3 linked regions of the Homo sapiens genome follow. The protein of the gene in region 1 interacts with the protein of each later gene in a biochemical or structural test. Each region holds a gene or a part of one and is shown in the gene's direction. Other genes may lie near its edges. The genes, in order: ACIN1, SRPK2 and PCBD1.

Region 1 (7,105 bases):
GGGGTTTCACCATGGTCTTAATCTCCTGACCTCGTGATCGCCCACCTCGGCCTCCCAAAGTGCTGGGATTACAGGCGTGAGCCACTGCGCCCAGCGTTGACTTTAACACATTTATCTCTGACCAACCTTGCACTTGCCTTTTTTTTTTGGTGTGTGTGAGATAAATCAGCTTCTTTCACTGATACTTGTGAAGGAACTTTGCCTAACATTTATGAAAACTTTTTATTTTGGTTTTACTTATTTTATAACTTAGCCTATTTCAGATCACTGAATTATGAAATGAGTATTTCATTTCACTGCACTACTGTCTTACAGATGTCTTCAAATGTTTGCTAAAGAGTCTGGCCTTTCACTATATATTCTAATCATATATCCTGTATGAACAACCATAACACAAATCTTTCTTCACTTACCCAGATACGAAATGGTATATACTCAGAGGTCCTTTTAATCAAATGATCATGAAGTAAAGTTTTACAAAATATGTGTAGTCTTCTAATTGATTTCATTAGTTTCATTTTGGGTTTTTTTTTTTTTTTTTCTTTTTTGAGATGGAGTCTCGCTCTGTCGCCCAGGCTGGAGTGCAATAGCGCCATCTCGGCTCACTACAACCTCTGCCTCCCAGGTTCAAGCGATTCTTCTGCCTCAGCCCCCTGAGTAGCTGGGACTGCAGGCGTACGCCACCACGCCCAGCTAAAATTTTTTTTGTATTTTTAGTAGAGATGAGGTTTTACCTAATTGGCCAGGCTAATCTCAAACTCCCGACCTCGTGATCTGCCCGCCTCGGCCTCTCAATGTGCTGAGATTACAGGCATGAGCCACCGTGCCCAGCCTCATTTTGATTTTTTAATTATTATTACAGAAGCATTCGCCTAGTTCATTTTAGATTGTAAGGATATAGAAATAGAGAAGGCCGGGCATGGTGGCTTACACCTGTAATCCCAGCACTTTGGGAGGCCAAGGAGGGGGAGGATGACAAGGTCAGGAGTTCGAGACCAGCCTGGCCAACGTGGCAAAACCCCGTCTCTACTAAAAATACAAAAGTTAACCAGGCGTGGTGGCGGGCGCCTGTAGTCCCAGTTACTCAGGAGGCTGAGGCAGGAGAATCACTTGAACCCAGGAGGCGGAGGTTGCAGTGAACCGAAATCGTGCCATTGCACTCCAGCCTGGGCAACGAGCAAGACTCTCTCTCAGAAAAAAAAAAAAATAAGAGAGAAGATCTTGGGTTAGAGCTGCATACCATCTGCTTTATTTGCACTATTACTATACAACATGGTTTTGTGTACAGAACCTTTTGTACTGTATTAACATTGAGTCCAATCTAGCTGATCAAGTATCTGGAATATAATTATCTTCCTGCTATTTTCTAAACTGGTTCTCATTGATGTTAGTATTGCTACTGTACATAGTTGATCTTTTTTGTTTTTTTGAGACGGAGTCTCGCTCTGTCGCCCAGGCTGGAGTGCAGTGGCGCGATCTCGACTCACTGCAAGCTCCGCCTCCCAGGTTCACGCCATTCTGCCTCAGCCTCCTGAGTAGCTGGGACTACAGGCACCTGCCGCCACGCCTGGCTAATTTTTTGTATTTTTAGTAGAGACAGGGTTTCACCATGTTAGCCAGGATGGTCTCGATCTCCTGACGTCGTGATCCGCCTGCCTCGACCTCTCAAAGTGCTAGGATTACAGGCGTGAGCCACCGTGCCCGGCCGCCTAGTTGATCTTAATTCTGGTAGGAAATTTGGAAATCATCTAGTGCAGCCCCTCCTTTTTCTCAATCATGACATTTGAGACTCGGGCACAGTGGTTTATACCTTAATCTCAGCACTTTGGGAGGACCGGGGTGGGAGGATTACTTGAGCCCTGGAGGCTGAGGCTGCAGTGAGCCATGATCATGCCACTGCACTCCAGCCTGGGTGACAGAGTAAAACACTGTCTAAAAAGAAAGATATTGAGACCCAAATTACTTAAGTGATTTACCCAGTTACCTTCCTTCATGGAATTTGAGTGAAACTTTCTTTCCGTTTTACATGGATTTATTGTTCAGGATAACCTAGATTGGTGGTTTCCAAGCTTTTTAATAGAACTTTTTTTTTCCTTAAAAAAAAAAAAAATCTCACCTAGTCCGGGTGCGGTGACTCACGCCTGTAATTCCAGCACTTTGGGAGGCCAAGGCGGGGGGATTGCTTGAGCCCAGGAGTTCGAACCAGCCTAGGCAACATGATGAAACCCCGCCTCTGTAAAAAATACCGAAATTAGCCAGGTATGGTGGCGTGCGCCTGCAGTCCCAGCTGCCCGGTAGGCTGAAGCAGGAGAATCGCTTGAACCTGGGAGGCGGAGGTTGTGGTGAGCCTAGATCATGCCATTGCACTCCATCCTGGGCAACAAGAGCAAAACTCTGTCTCAAAAAAAAAAAAAGAAAAACATGTGAGCTCATGCCTGTAATCCCAGCACTTTGGGAGGCCAAGGCGGGCAGATCACTTGAGGTCAGGAGTTTGAGACCAGCCTGTCCAACAGGATGAAACCCCATATCTACTAAAAATACAAAAATTAGCCAGGCATGGTGGTGGGCACCTGTAATCCCAGCTACTCAGGAGGCTGAGGCATGAGACTGGTTTGAAGCCAGGGGGCAGAGGTCGCAGTGAGGCGAGATTGCACCACTGCATCCAGCCTGGGTGACAGAGTGAGACTCCATCTCAGAAAAAAAAAAAAAAAAAAAAAAAATATTGAGCTCTAATACATAAAACCTAATAGACAGGACCCAATTCTGAAACCCCATCCAGTTGGCTTGAAGTAATTTCAGGAACTTTAGGGCGCTGAAAAACATTCCTCTAAGTATTTATTTCTTGAGTTTGTTATTGTGCAAATTCATATATTTCATCATAATATTTTGGTTGAAATTAGAAAGTAGTAGTAATAGGCAATCCAAAAAAATGGATACAGAACATAATGAAGTCTTAAACTTTATTCAGAGTAAGAACACTTTGTAGAAATAAGTACACTTCATATTTGTACATCCCTGCTAGACAGTTTGAAGCCCCTGGAAATTATTTTACATTTATTTGAGTTATTTATAACATGTGAATTGGCTTCGAGGTGTTGAAAATATTCTAGACTTGCACACCAAGAATTACCAATAAGACCCTGACCTAGTTAGGGCTTTTTGTAGTCTTTTCTTTAGTGTAGAAGTCAAAGAAACCGATACAGATATGTCTTGATAGGCTCATATGCTATAATTGGTTGGATATTAGAAAGCCTGATTTTTAAAAAGCCATGAATGAGTCTTCACTTCATGAATCTGACTTGATTCTTTTTCATTCAATAGGAAAAAGCTCCTCAATTTCTGAAGAGAAAGGTGACTCTGATGATGAGAAACCAAGGAAAGGAGAAAGACGATCATCTAGGGTCAGACAGGTAACTCAGATACCTCCTAAAGCATTACCTCTTCAGTAATGCTTTGGATATCTTCTCTTCTTCAGACTTGTTTTGAGTTTGTATGTCTCTACATTTAGGGGTTTTGTTTTTCTTTTTTGGGACAGAGTCTGGCTCTGTCGCCTAGGCTGGAGTGCAGTGGCACAATCACAGCTTACTACAGCCTCGACCTCCTAGGCTTAAGCAGTCCTTCCACCTCAGCCTCCCAAAGGATTGGGATTACAGGCATGAGCCACTGCCTGGCCTCTAGATTTCTTTGTGGTTATCTTCCTTCTCCTCTTTGTCATCTTTTTGTTGTTCGTTTTGTCTTTTTATTTAGATCTGCTCTGCCTTTTAGATTTCTAAGTGAATATTTTTTAAAAGTTTAAATTTGAAAATTAGCAGGCTGCTCTGTATTCTTAAAGCACATTATTAGACAAGATATGACATAATTAACCATTCAATCAAAGCTTTAAAGTTATATAACACTAAGTGGGCAGAATACAAAAATGTTATGTGTAGTGTAATTATGACTGTACAAAGGAAATGATTAGAGGAAAGAACAAAAAGAAATATACCAAAATGATAAAAAGATAATCGTATTAATTGATAGTAGGTTAGTTCCTTTCAGCCCCCTATCCACCCTTTTACTTTCCAGATGTTCTGCTAATATTTTACTGAAAAAAAAAAAAAGGGGGTGCTTGAAGCTAAAATTTAAACTACATACAAGTAGCTTCATTGTGATATTTCTTTTGGTCACTTTGTTTTGATTCCCCTAAGGGCTACGTTAGTCATGATTGTCTCCTGTCACTCCTGTTTCTGTTGCTGAAAGTATATATCATTGAATTTCTCCTTCCTAGGGGTGTCTTCATTAGATACTTTCTCTCCTCTGTTGACTGTGAGCAAATACATTTGGAGCCATTGTGTATCTGTTCTTTCAGGCAAGAGCAGCTAAACTGTCTGAGGGCAGCCAACCTGCTGAGGAGGAAGAGGATCAAGAAACACCTTCCAGAAACCTAAGGGTCAGAGCAGATCGAAATTTGAAAACAGAGGAGGAAGAAGAGGAGGAGGAGGAGGAGGAAGAAGATGATGAAGAAGAGGAAGGTGATGATGAGGGACAAAAATCTAGGGAGGCACCAATCCTGAAAGAGTTTAAGGAAGAAGGGGAAGAGATACCTAGAGTAAAACCAGAGGAGATGATGGATGAGAGACCCAAAACAAGATCCCAGGAACAGGAGGTGTTAGAGAGAGGAGGGAGATTTACAAGATCCCAGGAAGAGGCTAGAAAAAGTCATCTGGCCAGACAGCAGCAGGAGAAGGAAATGAAAACAACATCTCCCCTTGAGGAGGAAGAAAGAGAAATAAAATCTTCACAAGGCTTAAAGGAAAAATCGAAGTCTCCTTCCCCTCCTCGACTGACTGAAGATCGAAAGAAGGCCTCACTTGTAGCGCTGCCAGAGCAAACTGCCAGCGAGGAGGAGACTCCTCCACCTTTACTAACAAAGGAAGCATCTTCTCCACCACCTCATCCACAGCTCCATAGCGAAGAAGAAATAGAGCCCATGGAAGGCCCAGCCCCCGCTGTCCTCATTCAGTTATCTCCTCCTAATACAGATGCTGACACCAGGGAGCTATTAGTATCTCAGCATACTGTCCAGTTGGTAGGAGGCCTGTCTCCTTTGTCAAGTCCTTCAGACACCAAAGCAGAATCTCCAGCAGAGAAAGTGCCAGAGGAGAGTGTCCTGCCTCTGGTTCAGAAAAGCACACTGGCTGACTACTCAGCCCAGAAGGATCTTGAACCTGAGTCAGACAGATCTGCTCAGCCCCTCCCTCTAAAAATTGAGGAATTAGCACTGGCCAAAGGAATCACTGAAGAATGTCTGAAACAGCCATCTTTGGAACAGAAGGAAGGCAGAAGAGCTTCTCATACCCTTCTCCCAAGCCACAGATTGAAACAGTCAGCTGATTCATCCTCTAGCCGGTCCTCCTCATCTTCCTCCTCCAGTTCTAGATCAAGATCTCGCTCTCCTGACAGTTCAGGTTCTCGGTCTCATTCACCGCTCAGATCCAAGCAGAGAGATGTAGCCCAGGCACGTACTCATGCCAACCCTCGTGGTAGACCCAAGATGGGCTCCAGATCAACATCAGAGTCCAGATCAAGGTCACGTTCACGTTCTCGTTCAGCATCAAGCAACAGCAGAAAAGTGAGTATGAGAGAATCCCGGGTGTATTAATGTTCTGTCATATTCCAGTGGTTTTCATTTCAGCCCCTGGAGAGCCTGTCATGATTTCTGAAAGGAATAGGAAAAGCCTCCTTTACTCTCCTTCACTGATTACTTTCTCCTCATTTCAGAATCGTATTTTCAATTAACTGATTCCCGAAATGGGGTTCTTTTTCATTTTGAGTCCCTTGATAGAATGTTGAATTTATGTACTCATCTCCTCCACTAGATGGAAACTTCTTGAGGATGTGGGCATGCCCTTTTACGTGTGTGTCCCAGGATCTAGCATCTAGTTAAAACTTAATAATTTGTTAAATAAGTGGTCAAGGAGACCACTAAATGGGAATAAACACAGACAAAATGGGAGTAAACACAGACAAAAAGGTCCAGAGTATAAAATTTGGTCCATGGAAACTGGAAAACTCAGCAATCTACTGAATATATACCATATACAATAATTTTCCTTGTTATGTGTTTCATTTTGTTTTAGTCTCTGAGCCCTGGAGTCTCCAGGGACAGCAGCACCAGCTATACTGAAACCAAAGATCCCTCTTCTGGTCAGGAGGTTGCAACTCCACCAGTGCCACAACTGCAGGTCTGTGAGCCAAAGGAGAGGACTTCCACCTCCTCATCCTCTGTCCAAGCAAGGCGTCTGAGTCAGCCTGAATCAGCTGAAAAGCATGTGACCCAGAGGTTACAGCCTGAGCGGGTAGGCTATTGTGACCCCTCCCTACACAGAGATGGAGGATTAAGCAAGATCTTCCCTCTTGTCTTTGCTATAAAACTAAAAAGTTAAGTCTGGACAAGGTTCAGTAGAAATGTGGTGGATACCTGTTAATCCTGCTTAACTCATTTCCAGCTCCCTGGTTCGTAGAAGTTCTACATGAGGCTGAGCAGCAGGGTTATCTCCAGGGCCCCCAGGGTCAATTCTTCCTCATAACTCCTCCTTTTATCTGCCAAAAGGAAGTCAGCCTTTTCTCAGTTCTCTCAAAAAAGAATTCTGTCAGAACAAGGATCACTGAGGAAAAGGAAAAAAATTAAAAATTCTGATAAAATGATTACTGGCATAAATATTCTTGAAGTACCTATTTTTAAGCCATGTTCCTTTCCTTATTCTAAAATGAAATAACAGATACAGAGGGCCGTGTGTGGAGCTGGTACTGTGTATGTCCTGCCCTGCCTTTTTCAGGCTCCAGGTAGAAGAAAAGGAACCAAGCAGATCTAAATGTTTTGCTCTGTTCGTTTTTGCTATCTCCTGACAGGGGAGCCCAAAGAAGTGTGAAGCTGAAGAGGCAGAGCCACCAGCTGCCACACAGCCCCAAACCTCAGAGACTCAGACCTCTCATCTGCCAGAATCAGAAAGAATTCATCACACTGTGTAAGTGATATATCTCGACCGGGGTATAACAGGGAACTATGAGTGTGCGATAGTTCTTCGCTCCCTAGGGTTCTTTGACTAAGCAGTCCTAGTTTCCT
Region 2 (7,164 bases), on another chromosome or scaffold:
TCCACCAAAAAAAAAAAAATACAAAAATTAGCCGGGTGTGGTGGTACATGCCTGTAGTCCCAGCTACTTGGGAGGCTGAGGGAGGAGAATTGTTTGAACCTGGGAGGCGGAGGTTGCAATGAGCGGAGATCACACCACTGCACTCCAGCCTGGGCGACGGAGCAAGACCCTCTCTCAAAAAAAAAAAAGAAAAAAAGAATATCACTTAAGTCTGGGTATAGTGGTTCACACCTGTAATCCCAGCACTTAGGGAGGCAGAGGCAGGTGGATCACTTGAGGCCAAGAGTTTCAGACCAGCCTGGCCAACATGGTGAAAACCCGTGTCTACTAAAAATACAAATGGTGTGCGTCTGTAGTCCCAGCTACTTGGGAGGCTGAGGTGGGAAAATCACTTGAACCTGGGAAGTGGAGGTTACAGTGAGCTGAGATCACACCATTGCACTCCAGCCTCGGCAACAGAGCAAGATGCCCATCTCAAAAATGATAGGATTATAAAATCACTGTTCTACAACCAGTGTGGTAATAGTTGATTTAGGCAAGAATCATCAATGGATGCCAACCCATTGAGATATTGTCAGGGAAGAGATATTCACACAGTTTCAAAGTATCACCCCACACAAGTAACTTTGTTGTTTTGTTTTGAAGTGAAATTCACATTAAATGAAAGAAACCACTTTAAAGAGAACAATTCAGTGGCTTTTAGTCTATTAGCAATGTTGTGCCACCACCACCTCTATCTAGCACCAAAACATCTTCATCACACCAAAATAAAACTTGGTACCCATTAAGCAGTTGCTCCCTCCTTCTCCCACCCCCCAACTCCTGGCAACCACCAATCTGCTTTCTGTAGATTTGCCTATTCTGGATATCTCATATAAATGGAATCATACAATATGTGACATTTTGTGTCTGGCTGCTTTTATTTAGCATAATGTTTTTGATGTTCATCCACATTGTAGCATGTGTCAGTACTAAATTCTTTTTATGGCCAAAAAAATATTCCAGTGTATGTATATACCGCAATTTGTTTATCCATTCATTTATGGATGACCATTTAGGTTTTTTCCACCTTTTGGCTGTGATAGCGCTGCTATGAACACTCATGTACAAAGATTTGTTTGAGTATCTGTTTTCAGTCCTTGTGCATATATACCTAGGAGTGGAATTGCTGTTAATTCTATAATTAGCTTTCTGAGAAGCCAACAGACTGTTTCCATAATAACTGCACCATTTTACATTCCCACCAGAAATGTAGGAGGGTTTCAATGTTTCCAACATATGAGGGTTCCAAAATCCCCACCAACACTTTTTTTCCATTAACATTTTTTTTTTGAGATGGGGTCTCACTCTGTTGCCCAGGCTGGAGTGCAGTGGTGCGATCATAGTTCACTGCAGCCGCCAACTCCTGGACTCAGATGATCCTCCAGCCTCAGCCTCCAAAATGCTGAGATTACACTTGTGAGACATCACGTTTGGCCTTATTTTCCATTACAAAAATTTTTAGCCGGGCGCAGTGGCTCATGCCTGTAATCCCAGCACTTTGGGAAGCCAAGGAAGGTGGATCACCTGAGGTTGGGAGTTCGATACCATCCTGACCAACATGGAGAAACCCCAGATCTACTAAAAATACAAAATTAGCCAGGCGTGGTAGCACATGCCTGTAATCCCAGCTACTCGGAGGGTTGAGGCAGGAGAATCACTTGAACCTGGGAGGCAGAGGTTGCGAAGAGCTGAGATCGTGCCATTGCACTCCAGCCTGGGCAACAAGAGCGAAATTCCATCTCAATAAATAAATAAATAAATAAATAAATAAATAAATAAATTTTATAGTCATCCTAGTAGGTGTGAAGTAGTAGCTCATTATAGTTTTGCTTTGTATTTTCCTAACAACTAATGATGTTAATTCTCTTGTCACATGCTAGTTTGGTCATTTGCATGTCTTTGGAGAAATGTCCATTCAAATCCTTTGCTCATTTTTCATACAGACTTCTTAAATACAGAGGGAAAAGGTACCTGTATCTTGGAGAAATAATTAACTGTAACATCACCAGTAATGGAACAAACTGACATCATATTTTGATGCACTAAGATGAATACAACATCATCTATAGTATAGCCAACAAAATTGTTTAACTTGAATCTAATCATAGGGAAACAGACAAATCCAAAACAGGGAACATTCTGCAAAATGGTGGAACTGGATTCTTCAAAAAAGTCAATGTTATAAACAACAAAACAAAACAAAACAAAAAAAGGCTGGGTGCCGAGGCTCAGGCCTGTAATCCTAGCACTTTGGGAGGTTGAGGTGGGTGGATGACCCGAGGTCAGGAGTTCGAGACCAGCCTGGCCAATAGGGTGAAACCCTGTCTCTACTAAAAAAAAAAAAAAAAAAAAAAAAACAAAAACAAAAATTAACTAGATGTGGTGGTGTATGCCTGTAATCCCAGCTACTCGGGAGACTGAGGCAGGAGAATGGCTTGGACCCGGGAGGCTGAGGTTGCAGTGAGCTGAGATTGCGCCACTGCACTCCAGCCTGGGTGATAGAGTGAGACTCCATTTCAAAATAAATAAATAAATAGAAAGAAAACCAAAACACAAAACCAAGAATGATTCTAGACTAAAGGTGTTTAAAAAGACATGACAATTAAATGCAACGGATGATCCTTAATGGTAGACTAATTGGGAAAAAAAGAAAATCAGCGACAAGGGATATTACTGGGATATTTTGCAAAATTGAATATATATGGCCTGTATGTTACAGATGATTACATTGTATTAGTATGAAAGTTTCTTGGAGTGATCATGGAATTCTGATTATGTGGGAGATTATCTTTATTCTTAGTAGATATGTACTGAAATATTTAGGGATAAAGGGTAACAGTGTCTACAAAAACTCAAGTGATTCAGCAAAATAAACCATACACACAGACACATAGATAGCAAATGTGGCAGAATGTTAAAAATTGGTGAATATGGGTTAATTTGGCTGTTAATTGTATTTTCCTTGTAACTTTTCTATAGGGTTTGATATTTTTTTGAATATAAAAAGTTAAGGACTCTTCAAAATCCAAGCAGAGTTTCCCGTTCTGATTTATCATCCTTAGTGTAAGCCACCTTGTCAAAGATACAGTTGTGTGACCAATGAGGGAGTTAATAGTCAGAATGCGTATCTTTCAAAAACTATTGTAATTATTTACATAAATAAGAGAACATTGCAGTTATCTTTTTGTGTCACTATCAACTTGATTCACATCTTTTGTAGGCAGCCTGATAAGGTGGTTTGTCGACGGCCAGGCCTGAATTTCGATCCTGGCTGGTTAAACTTTTTAACCTCGTTGGGACTCAGTTTCCTCATTGTAGGATGCAGAAAATAACTACTTGGTGTGATTGTTGTTTTGAATTGTTATACACCTGGTGTTTACGGAAGCGAGTTTCAATTCATGTGCAAAACCTTTGTCCTACCTTGAATGCTATCTGTATCTTTTCCTTCATTAAACTCATGCAATCCTGGAGGGCACTTAGAGGTGGGAGAGAAAATGACTTCTCCAAGGTCACACCGCTAATCGCGGACCCAGGTTTCCCAGCTTTTGGTCGTGTGCCCTTTCCACGCCTGCCGGAGAGGAGGAAGCGGCGCTCATGGGGTTGCAAGGATGTAGAGGAGCAAAGGGAGAGAAGAGGCCGCGGGAAGAGAGGTGGTGCGAGACCCGCGGAGGCGCCGGCCAAGGACGGGCGCATGGAGCAGCGGGCGGCGCGACCGGCCGGGGTGCGGAGGGGAGAGGCCGCGGCGGGGAGGGAGGGTCCCGCGGGTCCGGTGCCCGGGAGAGGCGGGCGGCCTGGGCCAGCCGCAGGATCGCAGGAGGCGGAGGCCCGGGCCGCGGGCTGGGGTGGGGGAGGCCGAGGGCCAGCGCGGCCATGGGCGGCGGCCACTTCTGCACAGGTGGGTGGGGCGGGGGCGCGGGGCGCTGGGCGCGCGGCGCTGGGGTCCCGACCCCCGGGGCCGGCGGGTGGGGGCGGGGCGGGGGCGGGGCCGGACGGGGGCGGGTCTTGCTGGGTCCCTGCTGGAGCGGCGGCGGCGGCGGCGGCGCAGGCGCGGTTCTCGTCTCCTCCCGGCCGGCGGAGCGAGTGGAGGCTGCAGCCCAGCTCGTCTCGGCGCCCGCGTCGCCGTCGCGAAGCCCCCCGCCCCGCTTCCGCCGCGTCGGAATGAGCTCCCGGAAAGGTGAGTGGCCCGCGGCGCGCCCTCTCCCCGCCACGCGGCCAGCCCGGGCGGGCGGCCCGACCGTTAATGTGTGTCTTCTCTTCCCCAGTGCTGGCCATTCAGGCCCGAAAGCGGAGGCCGAAAAGAGAGAAACATCCGAAAAAGTGAGTCCACGCTGCGCCTGTCCCCGTTCCCCACCCCCGCCCCGTCGGGGGCGCCCGCGGCCGCGCAGGGGAAAGTTGTCCGGGTCCCCGGGCCGGCGGGCGGGCTGGTCCCCCGGGACGCTGGCGCTCGGCTCCTGCCCCCGGCGGGCGGCCCGGGGGGAGGGGCGGCGGCGGGGGAGGGGCGCGCGGGCCGCGGCCGGTTCCCTAGCATCACGGAGCCTCGACCCCGCGACCTCCCGCCCCGGGTCGCCACCGGCCGGCGGGCGGGAGGCCGGCGGAAAGGCGCCGGGCAGGGCGTGCGCACCCGTCCCTTGCCCGCGAGCTGGCCCGGGGGTCGCGGCCCTTTCCGGAAGGGGCCCCGGCGTCTGCCGCTGGGCTCCGGCCCGCCCGCTGCGGGAGTGCAGCGGCTGCGTTGCTCCCACCTGAGCCGCGGGCCGAGGAGGCGGAGGGGCCGAGTGTGCGGGAGGGCGTGTGTCTCGCCTCCCCTTCCTCCCCGGCCCCCGCCTGTCGGCCTTTCTGCTGAGAACCTAAGCTGGTTGTCAAGTGGTTTGCCTCGGGCGTGTTCCTGGCGCGAGTTCAGCCCCGAGACCTGTGCGTTTCGGCTCTCGGGTTTGGATTCGAAACTTTCCGCTCGGGTTGAGCGTGACTTGGGTGCGCTGCGGGCGCCGGGGTCGCGGGCTGCGCAGGGCGGTGGGCGTGTGCGCGGGAGCCGGTCGGAGTGGAAAACGCGCCCGTGGCGGCCACCTCCAGCCTGGCCGCTCACCCGAGCAGGGGGGCCGCTGCCCAAGAACCCTTTCCTGGAGAGCTGCTCCGAGACCGCACAGCGCCGCCGCGTCTTCTCCTTTTCCACTCCTCTCTCCTAATTTTTTTGATTTACCAGCGTTCGACATCGTTATCTCTTCCTCTAGATTAATTGCTTCGCTCTTTTGAGCAAGAATACTCTGTGTGGCATCTTTGGTACTGTGGGGAACGAGAATCCAGCATTATCTTTAATAAAATCCAGAAACATTTTTGGTTGTTTCCTTTGAGGGGTACGTCGCAGCACGCTCACTTTTTTCCCCTTCTCGTTGGCCTTGGTCCTTCAGTTTCACAAAATGTGGATAGTGACTTAAAAATACCTTAAAAAAAAAAAAAAAAGAAAAAACCATTAGAGTAAGGGGAAAGCACTTCCTAAAGAGTTGAAGAACTAATTGGTCGGTAAAAATTGGATATTGAATTCATAAGATGTTAAAATGGACTGGATTTTTGGTAGTTTTGGTTGCTTTTAAAAAAATTAGTGCTAGCTTTCAAGTGAATTACAACCTTAAATTTGAGATTTCCTTTGGTGAACCATGGAAGTTTACCCAGTGGTAAGGAGAACTGTAATGTTTAGGATTCTGAATAAGTACTGTGTTTTAATCACAGCTCTTAATTCAAAGCATTGATTTAATTCCACGTAGTCTGTTATACTCAGAAACATAAAAACAAGTGGAAAAAGTATGACCCCAGTGTCGGAGATGGCTATGTGTGCATGTATATACAAATAGACACGTATATGTGCATGTTACCTTTACGTACATGTGGAAAAACAGTTCTAATTAAGTCAATATGTGTCTTGTATTTGCATATATTAGAGTATGATTTTCCTAATGGTCGAGGGCCTTTTTGGTGGGCCGCAGTTTGGATTTATGTGGTATGTTGATGAAGACTTAGTGAATAGCCACAGTACTCAGCTTTTCCTCTCACAGATTAATCTGCCAGTTTCTCCCACTGTGTATTGTGTATATGTGATAGAATTTGAGGGGGAAAATAACACACCAGCTAATGATGAAACGAACTGGCTCTAGTCTGTAAGGTAACGGGACCAGCCCAATTATATAACTGATTGAGGCATTGCCATTTTTCACTTAACTCTTTGAATCAAGTCATAATTTTATTTAATAATTTTTTTGAGGCAGAGTTTCGCTCTTGTCGCTCAGGCTGGAGTGCAATGGCCCAATCTTGGCTCACTGCAACCTCCGCCTCCCAGGTTCAAGGGATTCTCCTGCCTCAGCCTCCTGAGTAGCTGGGATTACAGGCACCCGCCACCAAGCCTAGCTATTTTTTTTGTATTTTTTAGTAGAGACGGGGTTTCACCATGTTGGCCGGGCTGGTCTACAACTCCTGACTTCAGGTGATTCACCGGCCTCGGCCTCCCACACAGCTGGGATTACAGGTGTGAGCCACCGTGCCCGACCTGAATCAAGATATTATTTAAAAGAACTGTTTGATGTTATTTATTTATTCATGTCTTCAATAGGTATTTACATGTCTGTCTTCGGAGATGGTGTTAGAGGTTGTTTTTTTTTTTTTTTTGAGACCGAGTCTTGCTCTGTTGCCCAGGCTGGAGGGCAGTGGCGCGATCTCGGCTCACTGCAAGCTCCGCCTCCCGAATTCACGCCATTCTCCTGCCTCAGCCTCCTGAGTAGCTGGGACTACAGGCGCCCGCCACCACGCCCGGCTAATATTTTGTATTTTTAGTAGAGGTGGGGTTTCACCGTGTTAGCCAGGATGGTGTCGATCTCCTGACCTCGTGATTCGCCCGCCTCGGCCTCCTAAAGTGCTGGGATTACAGGCGTGAGCCACCAAGCCCGGCCGGTGATAGAGTTTTGAACAAGACAAAGCTCCTTGCAAAGCTAACCTTGGGAGGTTTGGGGAAAACCACAAAGAGGGTGACAAGATAATTTCAGATAGGGCTAAGGGATAGGAAGAAAATGAAGATGGGACATGTTAAGTAATAATAATAGATGACATTTGAACACTGTGCCAGTCACTCTGTCGATTGTT
Region 3 (8,044 bases), on another chromosome or scaffold:
GAACAGGGGGCTTAGGACAGGGGGTTGGGCGCTTTTCCCACAGCAAAAACAGCCCCTTCAGCCCCCACACTACTGAGTGGGTCCCTCTCCTTCCCTCATCCTTCCCCACTCCCTCACCGGATGAGCACTCTGAGAGCATGCACAGAGAGGAAGCAGTTAGTGTGTGCAAACTCTCACCTTGTCTGGGCCCCCTGCTGTCTCAGACCGACACGCCAGCCCACACCTGGCTTCCAACAATTTGTTAAAACTGAACTGATTTCTTTCTTCTTACCCACTTTAATGGAGGCTGCCCCTTCCTCCAAGCACTGCCCAAGTGAGCCAGACTGCACATCCTGCCTCTCCTTGGAGGGACCTGCCCCCTTGGAATTCAGGATACTTGGTTGCCCTGTGAGCTCACCTCCCTGGTGAGCTCAAGAAAAGTGATGACTTTGTAGTGCATGCAGTCTTTTCTCATTGTTAAGTATGATAGCAAGGCTTTCTGCCTCCTGGATGGAAGGTGAATACTTCTTGCTGTCCTTAAGTCTTTCCTTCCACCGTCTCTCACCACCCATTCTCAACCTAACGCTACACATTTTAGGTTGCTTTTATAGCAACATTCCACTTTCAGGCACCAAATTTTGTTCCTGCCATTTGTTCCTATTGCTGCAGAACAAATCATCATGCTGAGTGGCTTAAAACAAAAATTATGATTTCTCATGCTTCCACGGGTTGACTGGTCTCACTTGGGGCCTCACGTGGGATTGAAGTCAGATGTCTCCTGGGGCTGAAGTCATCTGAAGGTTTGGCAGGTCTGAGCATCCAAGAGTCTCACTCACGTGGCTGGAGAATGATTAACAGTTCCCAGAGTTTCTTTGGCTTAGTCTTAGAAGTTATAGCTGGATGTGGTGGCTCACACCTGGAATCCCACACTTGGGAGGCCAAGGCCCAACATTTGAGCCCAAGAATTTGAGACCAGCCTGGCAACATAGAAATGTCCTGTCTCTGTAAAAAATTTAAAACATTATCCAGGCATGGTGACTACCTGGGGGAGCTGAGGCAGGAGGATCACTTGAGCCCAGGAGGTCAAGGCTGCAATGAGCTATGATTGCACCACTGCACTCCAGCCTGGGCGACAGAGCAAGACACTGTATCAAAACAAAGTCACATGGTGACATTTCTGCCATATTTGACTGGTCATACTGGGCCATCCCAGATTCAACATGGGTGAGAACTATGCAGGGTGTGAATATTGGGAGTCATGGTTCATTGGGGGCTATCTTTGGAGACTAACATCCTGCCTAACACTACATACCAAAAGGGACCTTTCACATTTAGGTCTTAAATCTATCTAACTATAAAGTTAACAAAAGAAAAGGGAGTATATTTTTGTAGCAGGGTGGGGAGAGGACTTATCAAATAAATTTTCAAATGCACAAAATTATAAGGCAGAGGGAAAAAAGATAAATCTTATTACACCAAAATATAAGATTTCTGCCCACAGACATCATGGATCTCATGCAAGAAGTCAGTATACAGATGGCAGAATGAGAGGAGATATTTGCAATATCAAAACTGACAAGCAATTAATGTCTAGATTTTATATAAACACCCACAAACCAACTAAAAAAAGAGAGCACTAAAAATTCTCAAAAATTGGCAAAGGATATTAAAAAGCAATTCACAAATAGTAACCCCCAAATGGTAACAAGCATATGAAGAGGTTCTCAAAATCATTAGTCATCAGAAAACAATGTAGAGTAAAACAATTGAAAGCGGCAGGAGGCAGACAATTTCCTAGGCAGATGGGGGTGGGTCCCCAGTGAAACCCCACCTTCAAGCCAAAAACAGCCTGGACTGCTGGTTTGGGATGAAACCCCTCAAACCAGGGTGAGAACTTCTGTTCCTGTTTGCCCACCCTTTCCTGATTGGTTCTTTCTGAATAATGCTTTTTAACCAATCAAATGTTGCCTTTTCTAATACTACCTACAGCCCGCCCCTCCCCAATCCTGTGCCTATAAAACCCCCTAGACTCAGCCACACTGAGATAGACAACCCCACCTTCTCAATCCCTCTCCACTGAGAGCTGTTTCATCGTCAATAAAATTCTCCATCCTCATCACCCTTCAACTGTCAGCATGACCTCATTCTTCTTGGATGCAGAACAAGAGCTCAGGACCCACCAAATGTGGGCACCCACAAAGGCTGTAACGCTGGCCCTCTACCCTCACTGGTGGAGGGCAGCTGCCCCACAGAACAGAAGCTGCAGCAGGGCCAAGCTGGTCCAGGAGCCACGGGCCAGAGTGGAGAAAGGGGCCGCCTGAGCTGCCAACATGCCGCTGTCCATCAGGCTGCAGATGGTGGAGATAAAAGAGCTATTTAGCACACTGTAACACCCCTCTCTGGGGCTTCAGGCACCCCTGCCTGGGTGCTGCCACAGTCTCCTTGGGGTGACACACCTGATCTGGCTGTGGGCCCCACACAGAGCCTGTTCCTGTGTCATGGCTCAGTGCAGCTGGCTGGACCCTGCATTCACTCGGTCACATGCTCCCTCCCGCCAGGGGCTGAGCATACAGTCGCAGTGGCCTTGTGAGCCATGGGCTGTAACACAAGCCAGATGGGGCCTGGCAAGCTGAGTAGATAAGGCACTCCCTGCTGCAACCTCAGCAAAGGGGTCAAGAAAAATCCTGCATCACAACAAGCTCTCATTTTATAGCTATTAGCCTGACAAAAAAATAAAAAGCTGGCTAATGGGAAGTGTGAGTATGTATGTGTAAGATGCATATGGAAATAGTACCCCCTCACACCATGCAGGAGAGAATGAGGACTGGTGTCCCCATCCTGGACATCATCTAGAACTATTTTGAGATACACACCCATGGGGGGAATTGCTGGATTTATAGGGTATGGATATACTTAAGTTGCCTAAGAAACTGCCCACAGCCCAGGGAGCAATTAGAGATGTTCACTGCAGCAGCATTGTTGTTTAACTCTGTGTACGTATGTGTTTGTGTGCCCACATGCTCACGGGCTTGGGAGGTGGTGGTAGCAGCAGAAAGTTGAAGGGAACCTGAGTGTCCATCACTGATAGAACAAGAAACCCATGGCAGATTCTCATTACAAAATACTAGGCTGCAGTTAAAAGCTACAGATTGAATATACATATAGCAACATGGGTAGATCTTAATTTTCCACTAAATACTCTGTTTTGTAAGAAACAGACTGAGAAATGTAATATATTTACATAATACCATTTACATAAATTTAAAAATACACATAGACGAAACAACACCACACATTTTGCAAGAACCTGTGCAAACAAAAATACACATTAACACATTAGAGAGGCTGCTATGGGCGGTGGTGGGGGGCGGGGAATAAAAGTGGAGCACAAGAATAAAAGTTAATAGAAAAATGTGAAATGTGAGAGGACTTTTCTAATCTGACTCTAAGACTTATTATAAAGCTATAATAATCAAGACAAGGTAGTGTTCTGTCATGACAGACAAACAGATCAATGGAACAGAAGAAAGGGCTCAGAAATAAACCCACATGTATACAGTCAATTGATATTTTACAAAGGTGCAAAGACAACTCAGTGGAGAAAGGAATAACTGAGTCGCCATGTGCAAAAGTGCATCTGGATCTATAACTTGAAGCATATAAAAATATTTACTCAAAGTGGATCACAGACTAAATGTAAAACCAAAAGCTATAAAACATAGGAGAAAACTTTTGATCTTGGGTTAGGCCAAGATTTCTATGTGTACAACATCAAAATAGAAATCCATAAAAGAAACATTTGATATATTGGATTTCATCAAAATTAAGAACGTTTGCTCTTTGAAAGGCACCATAAGATAATGCAAAGAAAATATTTGCAAATCACTGCCTGATCATGTCCTTATATCCAGAATAAAACACCCTCAAAACTCGATAAGAAGACAACCCAATTTCTTTTTTAATGGGCAGGAAATTCAAACATGCTATTCAATAAAAAAAACTTATCCTTAGCAAATAAGTACATGAAAAGACATTCAATACAATTACTAATCAAGGAAACTCAAAACCACAATGAGATACTGCTACACACCAATTAAAATTTAAAAGGCTGACTATATCAAGTGTTGGTGAGGACAGAGAACTGCAACCTTCATACACTGCTGCTAGGAATATAAAATGATACAACCATTTTGCAAAACAGTATGGCAGTTTCCTAATAAGTTATAAAAGTCCACCTACCACATGACCCAGGCATTCCATTCCTAAGTGTTTACTCAAGGAAAATTAAAACATACGTACTTTCGAAGATTTGTGCACCATATTCGCAGCAGCTTTATTTGTAATAGCCAAAAGGTAAACAACGCAAATGTCCAATAGTGAATCGCTAAACAAATTGTAGTCTATCTGTACAATGCAATACTATAAAATAAATTTTACTTAGCCATAAAAGGAAGAAACCATTGATATAGGCAACAACATGGCTGAACCCCAAAACAGTTATCCTGCCTAGTATATACTCTATGGTCCATTTACATAAAATTCTAGAAAATGCAAACTAATTTATAGTGACCTAAAGTACATCAGTGCTTGCCTGGCCAGGTGGTTTCGGGAGGAAGGGGTTACCAAAGGGCAAGGGAAAACTTGCAGGGATGATGATATGTTCATAATGTTGATCTCGGTGATGGTCTCACGAGGGAAACATTAAAATTTATCAAATTGTACACGTTGAATATGTGCAATTTATTGCATGTCAATTATATCCAAATAAGAGATTTTTATAAAGAAAAAAATAGGTATTCTGGCGCCCAGGGCCACCCAGCTGTAAGCGGCGGGGTGGGATTCCAACCCAGAAGCGGGCATTTGGAGCCCTCATGCTTCACCCTAGCTCCCTGAAACAAGCACGGAGGATGGCTCTGAGCAGCGAGGAAAGTGCTGGAAGCAAGCAGGCCGAGCGCGTCCCTGGCTGGGGACGTTAATCATTACCGGAGGGCGGCCCGAGCGCGGCCCCGCCCCGGGACGGCAGCCTGCGCGCCCGGCCGCCGCCTGCCCTCTCCGCTGGCCACCTGCTGCCGCCCGCGCCATGGTGAGTCCAGGGGTGCGCGGCCGCGATCGGGGCAGCGGGGCCGGGGCAGCCGCGGGCGAGGTGGGAGCGGGAAGGGGCGGGGGAAAGTCTTTTCGAGTCCCCTGCGGAGCCGCCGGGGTCCGAAAGTGGGGTCTCTGCCCGGCTCTCTGTCGCTGGCGGCGGGGAGGGGAAGCTGAAGCCCTGAGAGGGGCGGTGGCGGGTTCGAATCCCACCCAGTTGGGAGGCCAGGCCTGCCCTGACCCCGGCCAGTGCTTGTTCCGGGACCCTTCCGGGGGCGGGGCCTACGACCTTCCTGGGCCGGGGAAGACAGTCGTGGAGGAGTCCACGGATCTCGTCCCCTTGGTGGCCCGATTCTGCTTTATACTGGGGTGGGAGCGAGAGGGAGGCTGAGTTTGCGCGCTCGTGTGCGTGCCTGTCCGCTGCCCCTTCCCGCTGGCACTCTGGGTACGGGGTCTGCCTGGGACTCACGCTCTGCGCCGGTATGCTGGCCCCAGAGCCACTCCCCGCGCCGGCTTGAGGCCCGTGCCAGGCCACGGGGGCTTGGTGGCGCTGGAGCAGCCCTCCTCCCGTGAGCTTCCCCCACCCACCCCCGGGGCGGGGGCGGGGGCGGGGCCCTTGCTCTGCTGTAAGCTCGCGAGCTTCATCAGACCATTTCTGGTCCACAGGCCTTCGGAGCAGGCAAGACTGGGAGGGCCTTTTGATAGGAGAGGGACTTGGGGGAGGGAGGATGAGTGGGGCTGTTTGTGAGGGGCGCTGAGGTCCCAGAGATGCAGGCTTGGGAAATCGGTAACCACTCCCCACACCTCGCCAGAGGAGGCAAACGGGGCAGCGTCCCCCTCTCTGTCTCCAGAGCCGGCACCTGGAAGGTTTGTCAGTTCAGCCGCAGGCTGTGCGACCTGGGGGGTTCCAGAAGGCTCTACCGAGAAAGGGAAGCCTCCTAAGAGCTCACCTGGACTCACCCACCCCTTTAAGAGCCAAGGAAGTAAACAGTGGGCTCTGATGCTTTGGCTGACTTCTGGTTGTCTAGATACACGGACCAGGCGGTCAGCCACGGGGAGAAGGCCAGCTCTGGAGTAGAGACCTACCTACTGGGCAGATGATGCAAATCGCTGCTGCCATTCAATCCCTATAGTCATCCAGAGCCGAGGGGAAGAGAGGGGCCAAGCTACATCAGTCCAGAGAGAGCTCACGTTTTCAGGAGGGAAAACAGCAGGGAAAAAAGACGGACTTAGGAAAGCACTGCGATGCTTCAGCTACCCCAAATGCTACCAGGCCCATCACAAGCCTGCTTGCCTTAGGAAGTTTTTTTTTTGTAATGCAGATGACATTTGCTTTATAGCAGTGGAGTTTCCTAAAGTGTCCCATTGGCACCTCATGATGATCTGTGGAGGTGGAGGTTCTGCCAAGAGAGGTACAGCCACCTGGCTGGTAAATGGTGAAAGCGGGTCTCAAAACTCCTGCCAATCAACACATGGTGTCCAGTCTGCAGGCTGCCTCATAAAAGCTAAATCAACCTCCCTCACATTCCCTCCCCACCCCTAAGGGTATCTTTTCAATTCAGCACTCTATTTCTGCCCTGGGGTGGTGCTACTCTAGAAGCCTAGGTTCTGGGATCTGTTAAGCTCCTAGACCTGGATCCTCCTAGGATGAAACTGACCCTTGCTTCCTTGCTTTCTCTGAGGTTCCACTCATGGCCTGAATTGTGCCAATTTGGGCTGCCTTGAGGGCACTTCGCACATTAGGTAAATAGGATGGGGCACTAGGTTTGCCAGCTGCCTTTGGCCAAGTTCCTTCCACTTTGGCCTGAGCTTCCCAACCAGCCAGAAAAGCAGACGGAAAACCAGAGAAACCTAGCCCTGGCGGCTCAGGACCAGAGGCTGCCTGGGAGCATGACTGAGGACCTACTAGAGGTAGTGCCAACGGCGGTCAGCTGCAGTGTGGCTAAGAATGGGATGGACACTTATTTTAAATGTAGCTCCTTCGTCCAGCCCCAGCAATGCTGACACACAGACAACACTGCGCCATCACTGGCTAGGGGTGGGCGGGAAAGAACAGCAGACAAGTCGTTTCCCCTCTCTAGGCCTGTTTCCTCTTCAATACACGTGAAAGTTACGGTAGGGACGTGGGGTGCATATGATGAAGTACATAATAGGAAAAGGAAGGGGGGAGAGTCATGGGTACTCTTCCTGAGAGGTTGTGGAGTAACATATTTGCATCTGGGATTTATTTTGCTTTTACGCCCTCACTGATGTAATAATCTCATGGAGGGAAGGTCCGTAAGGCTTTGAGGGCAGGGTGGGGGAAGAGTGCTTCTCTGTCCCCGTCATATGAATTACATTGCTTTTGTGATTTCCCTTGTGTGTGTGTGGAGTGTTAAAACCCAAGACCTGAGGGCCTATCGGCAGACGAGCCTGGACCCCACCTCCTGGGCAGGGTGCCACCCTTGAGGCCTCCCAGCCTATTGCTCAAAGACCTGCTGCCCTTTGGTCACCCACGTCCAAAGCAGCCAGTGGAAGCTAAGTTCCCCTAAAGGTTGGAGCCCCTCTGTTTTGACCTATAAAGAGAAATGCCCTTGGGCCTCTGTTTTTTTCCCTCTTCTAGGCTGGCAAAGCACACAGGCTGAGCGCTGAGGAGAGGGACCAGCTGCTGCCAAACCTGAGGGCTGTGGGGTGGAATGAGCTGGAAGGCCGTGATGCCATCTTCAAGCAGTTTCATTTCAAAGACTTCAACAGGGTATGGCACCAGGGTGGGACAGAGTTTTCTGAGACGGGCTGATGGGGTCACCTTACAAAGCATGTTCTCTCCCTTCACGTCTTGTTAGCCAAGACTCTCAGACACCACACTCATCCAGTTATTTGGGCACTGTGCCAGTGGGGAAATTAATTTTCCTGTCTAACTCAGAAAGTATCATCTTTGGGGATTGGAGAGCCATAGGAGGATGTGTCTTGGGCTCTCCCTTCCTGGAACTTTTAGCAGCAGTCT

Evidence for each region.
Region 2: of the proteins of ACIN1 (region 1) and SRPK2, one has a biochemical effect on the other in vitro, tested with the Homo sapiens proteins (one study listed by BioGRID).
Region 3: the proteins of ACIN1 (region 1) and PCBD1 form a complex in vitro, tested with the Homo sapiens proteins (one study listed by BioGRID).

Annotation. Positions count from the first base shown.
Region 1 is NC_000014.9:23,078,053-23,085,157, reverse strand, and holds part of ACIN1 (apoptotic chromatin condensation inducer in the nucleus), read left to right. Parts: intron 1-2,943; exon of another isoform or gene 2,944-3,321; coding exon 3,322-3,410; exon of another isoform or gene 3,411-4,348; coding exon 4,349-5,611; exon of another isoform or gene 5,612-5,698; intron 5,699-6,119; coding exon 6,120-6,338; intron 6,339-6,460; exon of another isoform or gene 6,461-6,891; coding exon 6,892-7,007; intron 7,008-7,105.
Region 2 is NC_000007.14:105,385,843-105,393,006, reverse strand, and holds the start of SRPK2 (SRSF protein kinase 2), read left to right. Parts: upstream 1-4,085; 5' UTR 4,086-4,200; coding exon 4,201-4,216; intron 4,217-4,304; coding exon 4,305-4,359; intron 4,360-7,164. UniProt on the Homo sapiens protein: Serine/arginine-rich protein-specific kinase which specifically phosphorylates its substrates at serine residues located in regions rich in arginine/serine dipeptides, known as RS domains and is involved in the phosphorylation of SR splicing factors and the regulation of splicing.
Region 3 is NC_000010.11:70,885,549-70,893,592, reverse strand, and holds the start of PCBD1 (pterin-4-alpha-carbinolamine dehydratase), read left to right. Parts: upstream 1-5,027; 5' UTR 5,028-5,059; coding exon 5,060-5,062; intron 5,063-5,711; exon of another isoform or gene 5,712-5,740; intron 5,741-7,663; coding exon 7,664-7,795; intron 7,796-8,044. UniProt on the Homo sapiens protein: Involved in tetrahydrobiopterin biosynthesis. Seems to both prevent the formation of 7-pterins and accelerate the formation of quinonoid-BH2. Coactivator for HNF1A-dependent transcription.